Regions from separate parts of the Homo sapiens genome. Here region 2 is linked to region 1. Evidence: fine-mapped expression QTL. A gene starts in region 1. The other region holds a variant in brackets. All regions are shown on one strand. Distances are from middle to middle. Region 1 holds the start of ACTR1B (actin related protein 1B). Region 2 overlaps TMEM131 (transmembrane protein 131).

Region 1 (5,377 bases):
CTGGCACTACAGGCGCACAACATCATGCCCGGCTAATTTTTGTATTTTTTGTAGAGACAGGGTTTTGCCATGTTGTCCAGGCTGGTCTCAAATTCCTGGGCTCAAGCAATCCACCCACTTCAGCCTCCACAAGTACTGGGATTACACGCATGAGCTACCGTGCCCATCTCAACCCCATCTTTTTTTTTTTTTTTTTTTTTGAGACGGAGTCTCACTCTGTCGCCCAGGCTGGTGGCGCGATCTCGGCTCACTGCAACCTCCGCCTCCTGGGTTCAAGCGATTCTCCTACCCCAGCCTCCTGAGTAGCTGGGACAACAGACGCATGCCACCACGCCCAGCTACTTTTTTGTATTTTTAGTAAAGACAGGGTTTCACCGTGTTAGCCAGGATGGTCTCAATCTCCTGACCTCGTGATCTGCCCGCCTCGGCCTTCCAAAGTGCTGGGATTACAGGCATAAGCCACCGCGCCCGGCCCCAACTCCATCTTAAAACTAGCAAGGCACATTCCTTGCTAGTCCCAACCCATGGTCATAAGATGCTATGGCTAAAAGAGCAGTTTAGTAATGCCTGCAAGGACAAAATCCTACAACAACAAAATGTCCAGATGCTCCAATATTGCCTAACAATATATGATTTAAGATAGTTATAGTTACAGGACTCGATGGCTCACACCTGTAATCCCAGCACTTTGGGAGTCCAAAGTGGGTGGACTGCTTGAGCTCAGGAGTTCGAGACCAGCCTGGGCAACATAGCAAAACCCGGTCTCTACTAAAAATACAAAAAAATTACCTGGGCGTGATGGTGCACACCTGTGGTCCCAGCTACTTGGAAGGCTGAGGCAGGAGGATAGCTTGAGCCTGGGAGGTGGAGGTTGCAGTGAGCTGATATCAGGCAACTGCACTCCAGCTTGGGCAACAAGGTGAGACCCTGTCTCAAAAAAACAAAACAAAACAAAATATATATATATATATATATATATATATATATATATAGAGAGAGAGAGAGAGAGAGAGAGAGAGAGAGAGAGAGAGAGAGAGTCATGCTTTGATGTATTTATGCATTAAAATGCCAAGGATAACTTTCTTTAAATCAAAAAGCACTAAATTTTGTTATGCTGTCAGCCCACCCTCATGTAGACATAGCTTAGTTTTTACATAGATAAGACCCCTCTATAAGAAGAGTTTAATATAAAGAGGGTGTGTTCCCCCTCTTGCTTTCTGAGGATGGCCTACTCTGTAACTGAGTAGCTTTCAATAAACAATCGCTTCTCACTGCACTCTGCAACTTGCCTTGAATTTCTTCTGGGCAAGATCCAATAACCCTCCCTTGGGGTCTGGATCGGGACCCCTTTTCCAGCAACAATATTGTTTCTTGAACTCGGTGGTTATGCAAGTGTGTCCACATTTTAATCATTCATTGAAATGTACATGTACACTTGTGATTTCTGCACACCCGCTTCAATTTTACAAATTTTATGCTCACAACCCATTGGGAGAGGTATATATACAGGGAAATAACTATGGATCCGTTTGGTAAACAAATGTAGAACTCAACTATCCTGCACTCTTGAAGCAGCTGACTCCAGTGCCGCAGGGGGCTACCTGCATGCCAATTCCACACCCAATAATCTTGGGCAGGTTACCAAAGTGTGAAGACCCTGACTGAAAAATGGGAGTAATAATACAACTACCTGATATTGTTGCAAGGATTTAATATAACTTATGTAAAGTGGGCAGAAGTGCTCCGCAGGCACAGAGCAGGTGCTCAATAAATGCCAGGACCAAAATACCACGAAACTGTAATTTTTATAAGGAAAAGGATCTTTTCTTCAGTGCTCAACGAGGAAATATTATGGGGCCGTGCGCAATAGCTGACGCCTGTAATCCCAACGCTTTGGAAAGACTAAGCGGGAGGATCGCTTAAGCTCAGGAGTTCGAGGCTAGCCCGGGGAACATAGCGAGATCCCTTCTCTACAAAAAAAATTTTTTTTAATTAGCTAGCGTTGCGCGGTGGCCGTATGGTGGCCAATGAGGTTTATCCGAAGCGCGATTATTGCTAATTGAAAACTTTTCGCAATACCCCACCGTGACGACTTGCAATATAGTCGACATCGGCAATTTTTAACAGTCTCTACGGAGACTATTTCAGTAAAAATAAATAAATATGGTGCGCGCCTGTAGTCCCCCCTACTGGCTGGCGCGGGAGGATCGCTTGAGCCCAAGATTTCCAGCCTGAGCGACAGAGCAAGACACCTTACCTAGAAAAAAAGAAAAAATAAATATTTTGGGTGAAATATCCAGGGCCGGCCTCCTTGGAGAGGGCGCTCTCACGAAGGAGCGTGGCCCGAGGTGCTGGGACGCGGGAAAGACGTCTTTCTGGACCGGTGCTGGGACGCGGGAAAGACGTCTTCCTGGACCGGTGAATTTCCAGCTCCACAGACTCCGGCCGCGCGCACACCAGCCCAGCTCCACTTTCTGCCGCCCGCGTCCCCTTTAAGACGGAGCCATGACATCATCCCAGACACTGCGCAGCCTACCTTGGCAACGCCGCGACCACTTTTTTCCGGACGACCTCAATTGGCTGGCCAGCCTCCGGAGGCCCCGCCCCCTTCGCGCAGCCAGCCCCGGGCACCTGCTGTCAATCGGGCCAGGTGGGAGCGATGATTGGCCGCCGGGCCCGCCCTCCAGAAAGCCCCGCGGGGCTCGCGTAGGCTGCAGGCTCGGGGAGGGAGGGCAGCGGCGCCGCGTCGGGAGCCGCCGCCGTCCCGGTCCTCCCGCCCGCCCGCCCATCCGGTGCCTCCTGCAGCCCGCCTGCTGGGCAGGGCCGGCGCGGCCCGGCCATGGAGTCCTACGACATCATCGCCAACCAGCCTGTGGTCATCGACAACGTGAGGCCCGGCAGCCAGGGGGAGGGCGGGCGCCCCGCCCCCGGGGGCGCACGCGGCGGCGCAGGGAGAGACCCCCGCCCGCCTCGGCGCGTCCTCCGCTCACTGCGTGGCCGTCGCCCCCGCCGGGCCGCTGGCTTCGCCCCGGGGGCGCGCGCCCTCTTGGCCTTGTAAGGCCGGCCATGGGGCGAGCCCCCTCGCCCGCGTCGCAGAGCCTCTTCCCCGACCCCTCCCCGAGTCGGGCGGGGAAGTTCAGGAGAGCTTGAGTGACAGCCGGGCGGCCGGGCGGGGACGCGCCCCGGACTCTTCTCAGTTGAGAGTGCGGTTCCTGGGCAGGTTTCCACACCAGTTCCTTTCCGCGTCCTTCGGCCCTGGCTCTGGCTGCCTGGCGGAGGTGGGGTAGCATTTGTCATTTGCACACTGCTGGCTTTATCTTTGGGGCTGCACCCCGAGGCAACAAATGCAGGATGCTCTGTCACCCACATGTCCACCACCATCTGGTTTGCCTTTTGGCTACTTTGACTTTCTCCTTAAATGCTTCCTGTGCTGAGCAAACATTCCACAGCCAGCAGAGCAATGGAGAGTTCATGGCCACTCTTCCCAGTATCAGCAAGCAATTTGGGGTGATCGTTTGGAAGCCTCAGAGGAAAGATGTCATCAGGCTTCCTGTGGCTTTGTCCTTCAGCAGTGGGGCTCGGCTTGCTTTCACCTGCCTTAGGAAGATTTCTGGCTTCCGAGCTCTGATATGGGGAGAAGATAAGGGCTGGGATCTTTGAGTCTGCCCCTAGCTGGGTATGTGCGTCCGGTGTGCGGGCCTTGGAGTTTTTGGTAATGACTCACTTGTGCTCTTTCTGGGATCTGTCTCCCTCCCACATGACCCCGTGGGGTCCCTGAATGACTGTTTTAGAGTACCCATGTGGGTTCCCTGAGTCACAGCAGGGGATGTTTAATAAGGAGGTTAGCACTGAGCTTGGGGACGTGCTGTCACACCAGCAGGACGCTGCAGGAAGGAGCAGGCTACTTCCTTTCTTGACGTGCAAATAACTCGTATAGGCTAATCAACAGGCTTATAAGTTAAAAGGGCTACCGCTCGGCCCCTTGGGGATTCCATCCCCTCCTCTGTAACTTGGAGATGTTTGTTTCTGCTGCAGACTCAGAGGGTTGCGATGAAGAGTGGTGGGACTGAGTTGAGAAGCTTATCCCTTCGCTGGGTGGGAGGTTTCTAATTGCCCCGTTCTTTGGGGGATCCTTAAGTCCAGCTTCCAGGTGGGGGCAGCGATAGGACCAAGTTCTCCTAGTAGTCTCTGGGAAGCCACTTGAGGGAAGCTGCCGGTCATCCCATGCACCCATTGGTCTTCTCCAGCAGGCCCTGTAGGTCGTCCATGTTCCATGCCTTCTGGGTTCTTGGGGGAGAAGGAAGCTGTTGAAAAAAAAAAAAAAAGACCCACACAGAGGGGTTTCTTCTAGCTTTTGGGAGTAGCATGTGCTATGGAATCCTGCTGGAGCCAACCATTAGTTGTGCAGAGGAAGGTGCCCTTCGTGGTTTCTCTATCTCTATATTATTGACATTCTGGGCTAGCTCCTTGTTGGTAGTGCAGGCTCGCCTGTGCATCGTAGGATGTTGAGCAGCATCCTTGGCCTCTGCCCACTAGATGCCAATAGCATCCCCCACTGCATGTCCCCTCTCCCCAGCTGCCAGACATTGCCAAATGTTGCCAGAGCAGGGGGATACAAAATTGCCCCCAATCTTGAACCATAGGTGTACTTGTAAATGATCCTGGCAGGGTCCCTGGCTTCCTCCTTGGCCTGCCTTGACGGGGCAGCCAGCTCTCTCCATTGCGGGGGACTGGCTTCATCTGGTGGTGCATGTGGGCAGCTCAACTTTGTTTTTCCTTGCAGGGTTCGGGGGTGATTAAAGCTGGCTTTGCAGGAGACCAGATTCCCAAATACTGTTTCCCAAACTAGTAAGTGTGGCTCAGGCAGCAGCCTTAGTCCTTTTGTTTACCTTCTGTAAGAACATTGGCCTTCTGTCACAGGGCTCTTTGAAGACAATTTGTGCCCTGACCTGTATGGAAAACACCAAATTTGTGAGGTTGACACTCTTGAGAGAGCACTGAAAGAACAAGACAAGCGTTCTAGGGTTCCCCTTTGTCTTGGGAGTCTCTCGTTTTGGTCTTGTTGAGCCAGCAAGGAGGAAAAGCAACCAGCATTTCCCTGGGGATGGGGTGTGGTAGCAGCAGCAAGAATAAAGGGAGACATCTCCGAGGGGAGCCCTAAACTCGGAGCAGGAAGAGTGAGGAATTAGATGCACAGCCACCCTTTCCTCCCTGGAAGTGTTTTCTGCCGGGCTTGTTTTCAGACTCTAGAAAATGTCTTGTTTCAGTTAAGAGGGGATCCTTTGCCCTGTATGGTACTGGTGGGGGCGGGAATAAGAATTGCAAACCCAGAGAGCCTGGGGTGCCCCTTGCACCCACCACGAGCCCATTGGGAAAG
Region 2 (5,377 bases), 170 kb before region 1:
TTCCTAAACTATACTAAATTAGAACAAATAGCACTGGACTAAAAATAAAGAATGTGTCAGGTTCCTAGTTTTAGTGTAATTATTTGTTTGACTTTGTAATTTAGACTTTTTCTGTCTCTATTTCTTTATTCATTTTCTCTGTTATCAGTAGGCGACTTTTTAATCTTCTGGGGGTTTTTTTGGTTGGTTGGTTGGTTGGTTGGTTGGTTGGTTGGTTGGTTGGTTGGTTTTCCAGACACCAGGCTGGAGTGCAGTGGTGCCATCTTGGCTTACTGCAGTCTTGACCTCCCAGGCTCAACCAATCCTTTTACCTCAGTCTCCTGAGTAGTTGGGACTACAGGTGCACGCCACCACACCTGGCTAATGTTTTTTATTTTTTTGTAGAGACAGACTCTCACTATGTTGCCTAGGCTGGCCTACAACTCCTGGGCTCAAGTGATCCCCGCTACCTTGGCCTCCCAAAGTGCCGGGATTACAGGCATGAGCCACTGAGTCTGGTCTAATCTTCTGTTTTCAAGCATTGTTATGCTTGTTTGCTTGATACTTGGAAGGATTGATGAAATAATGTGTGATGTTTTCTGGTTTTCCAGAAAAAGTTCTATAGTCATCCTATCATTTAAGGTGCTATTATTATTAACACAATAAGCACTATAGATGAGCACTGTAACAAATCAGCAGGCAAGTAATAATATACAAAGAAAATCTATAGCTTATCAGTCTTTGGTAAATGCATTACTTTTACAGCAGCAACTCCCCGGCCCCTGCCAAAAAAACAAACAAACAAAAAAAACCTTTAAGGGTCCAGGCGCAGTGGCTCATGCCTGTAATCCCAGCACTTTGGGAGGCCGAGATGGGTGGATGACGAGGTCAGGAGTTCAAGACCAGCCTGACCAACATGGTGAAACCCCATCTCTGCGAAAAATACAAAAATTAGCTGGGCGTGGAGGCATGTGCCTGTAATCCCAGCTACTCAGGAGGCTGAGGCAGGAGAATCACTTGAACCCAGGAGGCAGAGGTTGCAGTGAGCCGAGATCACACCATTGCACTCCAGCCTGAGCGACAGGGCGAGACTCCGTCTCAAAAAAAAAAAAAAAAAAAAAAAAAAAAAAAAAAAAGTTTAAGCTTAAGAATTGCCATTTTTCTTGCTTTATCCTTTTTTATTCACTCCTGGAGGACTTCTTGTGATGAAACAAGTGAACGTTTCCACCCATTCTCATACTTCACCCCAAATTTAATTGAATTAAATATATTTTTTCTTTTTAAGAATTAGGGTTAGCTTACCTTTAAAGGAAGGTCTCCTGCCTTGTGACCCATTTTGTGTATATATATTTACCCAAAAGAAAGGAAAGCAGATGACCACACCAAGACTTGTACTCAGTATCCACAGCAGCTTTCTCTTTAATGGCCAGACATTGGAAACAACTCAAATGTCCCATTAATGTGTGGATTGAAAAACTGCGGTATAGTCATCAAATAGAAGTGAACTATTAATGCATAAACAAAGTGGTAGACCTCAAAATAATTGCATTGAGCAAAAGAAGCCAGACACAAGAGTATATGTTGTATTATTCCATTTAGATAAAACTCTAGAAAATATGAGCTAGTCTGAGGTGATAGAGAGCAGATCAGTGGTTGCCTAGAAATAGGAAGGGACAGAGAAGGATGGATGGATTGCACAAGGCATGAGGAAGCTTTTGGGGATAATGGATATATTTAATATCTTAATTACAGTGATGGTTTTATGCCCAAACACATAGGTCAGGATTCATCAGGTTGTATACTTTAAATATGTATTATTTATTTTACATAAATAACTCAATAAAGCTGTTTAAAAAAAGTAAGCTTAGGCATAAGCCACAGAAATATTTTTGCTACCAGTAGAAACCACATATTTTCATGTTCCATTAGAGTTATTTTGTATATATCTCAAATATTTTTACTCTTCCCCATCTCACAATTATGGTAGTTATTTGATCCACTGCTGGCTCTTGTTATAAATGTATGGATAAAGAAGCACTTTGTGTTACTGTAAGAAATACAAAATTTATGTTTCCAAAACTTGGTAATTTTTGTAAGTGATTCCCTTTGGAAAAAAGAAAAATAAGTATCCTGTTACTTTCTAAAATCTGGTCTCTGGAACAACTATGGTACTTACACTGTTTCTAAGTTAAATTTTCAAAGTTACCTTATTTTAATTAAAAATACAACTATTGCTTACACATACAGAGCACTGAATTTAGTGATATTATACATATCCTACGTTTATATCTTTAAATGTTTTGTGATAAACAGTTAGGATGTCAGAATTATTTCTGTGTAATAGCAAGTCACCTGCTTTGAGAATATGACTTTGAACGTAGCCATCATGTGCTCTTTTGCCCCAGGTTGTAGAAATGTACTCTAGTGGAGGAGACCTTCACCTAGAACTCCCAACGGGTCAACAAGGAGGTACCAGAAAACTGTGGGTGAGTTGTAACCTAGTTTTCTCTTGTGTGTGCTCCCATGAAACCGATTATTCTTAAATTAGAAAATATTTAACTCCTTAATAGGCTTAACAAATATGGATGACTTCTCTTTAATCGTTGTCTTAATGTTAATTTATGTCAAGTATATATGAAAATTGGAGGAGGAAAGAATATAAGTAGTAATTTTTGGAAAGGGCAGTGAGTAAAATTGGTGGGAGTTCTACCCCACTACATGGAAAGAAAGTAACTTCAGCTATTCTTCCTCCGAATTA[T/A]ATGGGTAAAGTTGTCTCTGAGTCTGATAATTTATGATGTGCTTTACACATAAAAAAATGTAAATGATTAAAAAAATGTAGGAAGCATTCATTATGTTTTTGTTTTGTTTTTGAAGGTAAGTAATTGAATGTTCAGATTCACCATTGGTAAAGGAGATGGCATTTGCAGAGAGAACCTAGTCAAGTGCCTGCGATAACTTAGAAAAATTTTAATTCTTGAAGGTGATCTGTGTTCACCTTCAATATTGTTGAATATTTAACAATATTAACCAAATTAAAGAATATGTAAGAGAACCTTATTTATAAAGATTCTTGCCATTTGTGAGTTTTAAAAATGTTTACCATGCTTTAATTCAAGAGGGAGAAGGCAATTGTGGTCAATTCAGTTCCATATCCAGCTCACTCAGATCACTGCTCATCTGTAATGGAGGAACACAAATTTTACAACCAGGAGTAAGGTTTGAGGATCAGAGTTTCTTTATTAACTGCTGTTACACACACACAGCCTCTTGATTCTGTCTTCTGACCAGTCTTGACCACAGAAGAGATGTGGAGATTATGTTTTTAGAATGTTAATATGAACATCTAGAAACAAATTTATCAGCCAGTTATTTGGTTAATTCCCAGAATATAGAAACACAACCAGCAAAAAGAAATATGCAATGGACAGTTCATTTATATCCTTTCACAAAAATGTTTCACCTTGAAATTGTGGTGTTTGAGGGAAAAATCATCTATAAAACAATCCTTCAGAGGATTAAATTCAGACTATTATATCTGTATATATTATTCTAGACAGAACTAAGAACTTCCTGTGAAACATAATTGGTATCTAATAAATAAACCTAAGAGAATTCAGATTTTTAAATAGTCAAGAGTGATAATGATAACAGAGAATAGCATGTTTTTATAGTCCTAGTGGCTGCAAAAAAAGATATGGTAGTTCTTATTCCTACAAACCTAGACTGAGAAAAAAGCCAATGGGCTGTGACCTCACCTCCAGCCTATTTCGGTGTATAGGTGAAAACCCCAGAGACCAAGTCAACTCCCTAGAGCTGGGGAGTGGATGGTCCATCCCTCCAATCTTAGGAGGGTCCCAATCACCTGTTTTCTACTTTGGGACTAAAAAAGAGAGTAGGGATAAGTGAAGGCCACTAAGCTGTAGAACACAAGAATCTCCTAAAATATGCTGAAAGGTTTGTGCAGAGAAGAAATTCAGGCAGTCCCAGGGAGCCATATTGTTCTGAAACCAGGAAAGAGATTACTCCTCAAAATTTTTTTTCCAGTAAGTCTTCCTTTTAGTATATAAATGTTCTCTCATTACGGGACTGAAAATGTATGCTGTCTTACATGAATGCAGTTGGTAAACTGTGGATTTACTTGAGAAGCTTTGCATTGTTAAGTTTTCCATGAAAGAGCAGTGTAAGCCCTGCTGGTTATCATTTATGAAGGTTCTTGTGGACTTCTAGAAAAGTATTTACCTCTGATGGTGACATTTCTGTTGGTTAAATTTCAAGACTGAGTTATATACCCAAACACCACTAACTAGCATATTAAAAAATAACTGATTTTGTAGATTAGTTTTACCTTTTAATGGTGATTTTGTAACTGACAATTTGTTTTCAGATCATTTGACTTCTTTTGCTTTGCCTACCTTACATATCGTATTTCATCAATTCTAAACAGCACATTTTTCACATTTTAAAGTTCTCCAGAAATGGAGTGTGTGTTACATATTGGTTTAATTAGCAATGCATTTTTTTTATTAATAGGTATATAGAATACTCATCTTTCAGTCAGTGTCATCCAGTTCAATAAAAAATGGTGGTTTTGCTACATTACAAAAGCTGTGCTACATTATGGTCTGTTAACTTGTCAGGAAATTCCTCCTTATGAAACCAAGGGAGTGATGAGAGCCAGTTTTTCATCTAGAGAAGCAGATAATCACACAGCCTTCATAAGAATAAAGACTAATGCTTCAGACAGCACAGAGTTTATCATTCTTCCTGTTGAGGTTGAAGTTACAACAGGTTAGTGGAAAACTGATGAAATCGAAAGTTGTTTTGTTTTCAGTATAGCTTACTCTGGCAAAGTGAAAAATAATTGTTGACTTTTCTTTTTTCCAAGCTCCTGGAATTTATTCCTCAACTGAAATGTTAGATTTTGGTACACTAAGAACACAAGGTAAAAAAATCTTTTAAAAGAGTCTTTATGGAGTTTTTTTTTTTTTTAACCCCTGTATTCAGTGCTGAATGGCTCTACTATGTAATTCAGCTTTAAACATTATTTCTCAGTTGGTTGCATGATCTTGTACAAATCTCCTTTTCAGACTCAGCGCCTTTACAGGTTTATACCCCATTCCGCTGAGGGGTGGGTGGCATTGCTTAACAGGTTGGAAAACAAGGCCATGGGATAATTTAAGTCATCTAAATGGAAGATTGAGGCAGAAAATAGTTTTCTAGTTTCTTAATCCAGTTGCTCATCAGTTCAGTTACGCTGAATCTTGATTTTTACTTCTGGATTTTGTTTAGATATGAGTTATTAAATTACATTTTGACAAAATGTTGAAAGTTTGTTGCAGCTGTTCAGAAAACTCAAATTCTGAAATTAAAAACAACTAAGTAAAGATTTTTGCTAAGG

What was found.
Region 2: its variant is fine-mapped to the expression of ACTR1B in whole blood (TOPMed, PIP above 0.99).

Annotation. Positions count from the first base shown.
Region 1 is chr2:97,661,353-97,666,729 of GRCh38, reverse strand. ACTR1B (actin related protein 1B) reads left to right here and starts at 2,686. Exons shown (of 11, transcript NM_005735.4): 1 at 2,686-2,887; 2 at 4,784-4,848. The coding sequence starts at 2,840. LOC124900516 (U4 spliceosomal RNA) reads left to right here and starts at 1,999; the gene lies at 1,999-2,139. It also overlaps a transcript of C2orf92 not described here and the pseudogene RNU4-8P. RefSeq lists enhancers at 2,168-2,507, 3,548-3,617, 3,583-4,224 and silencers at 2,588-3,047, 3,128-3,187.
Region 2 is chr2:97,834,165-97,839,541 of GRCh38, reverse strand. It overlaps TMEM131 (transmembrane protein 131), which reads left to right. Exons shown (of 41, transcript NM_015348.2): 8 at 2,385-2,465; 9 at 4,617-4,767; 10 at 4,865-4,921. Among named protein-coding and RNA genes, the nearest start is that of ZAP70, 120 kb to the right of the region's middle. The variant T/A (reference allele first, on the strand shown) is at 2,738.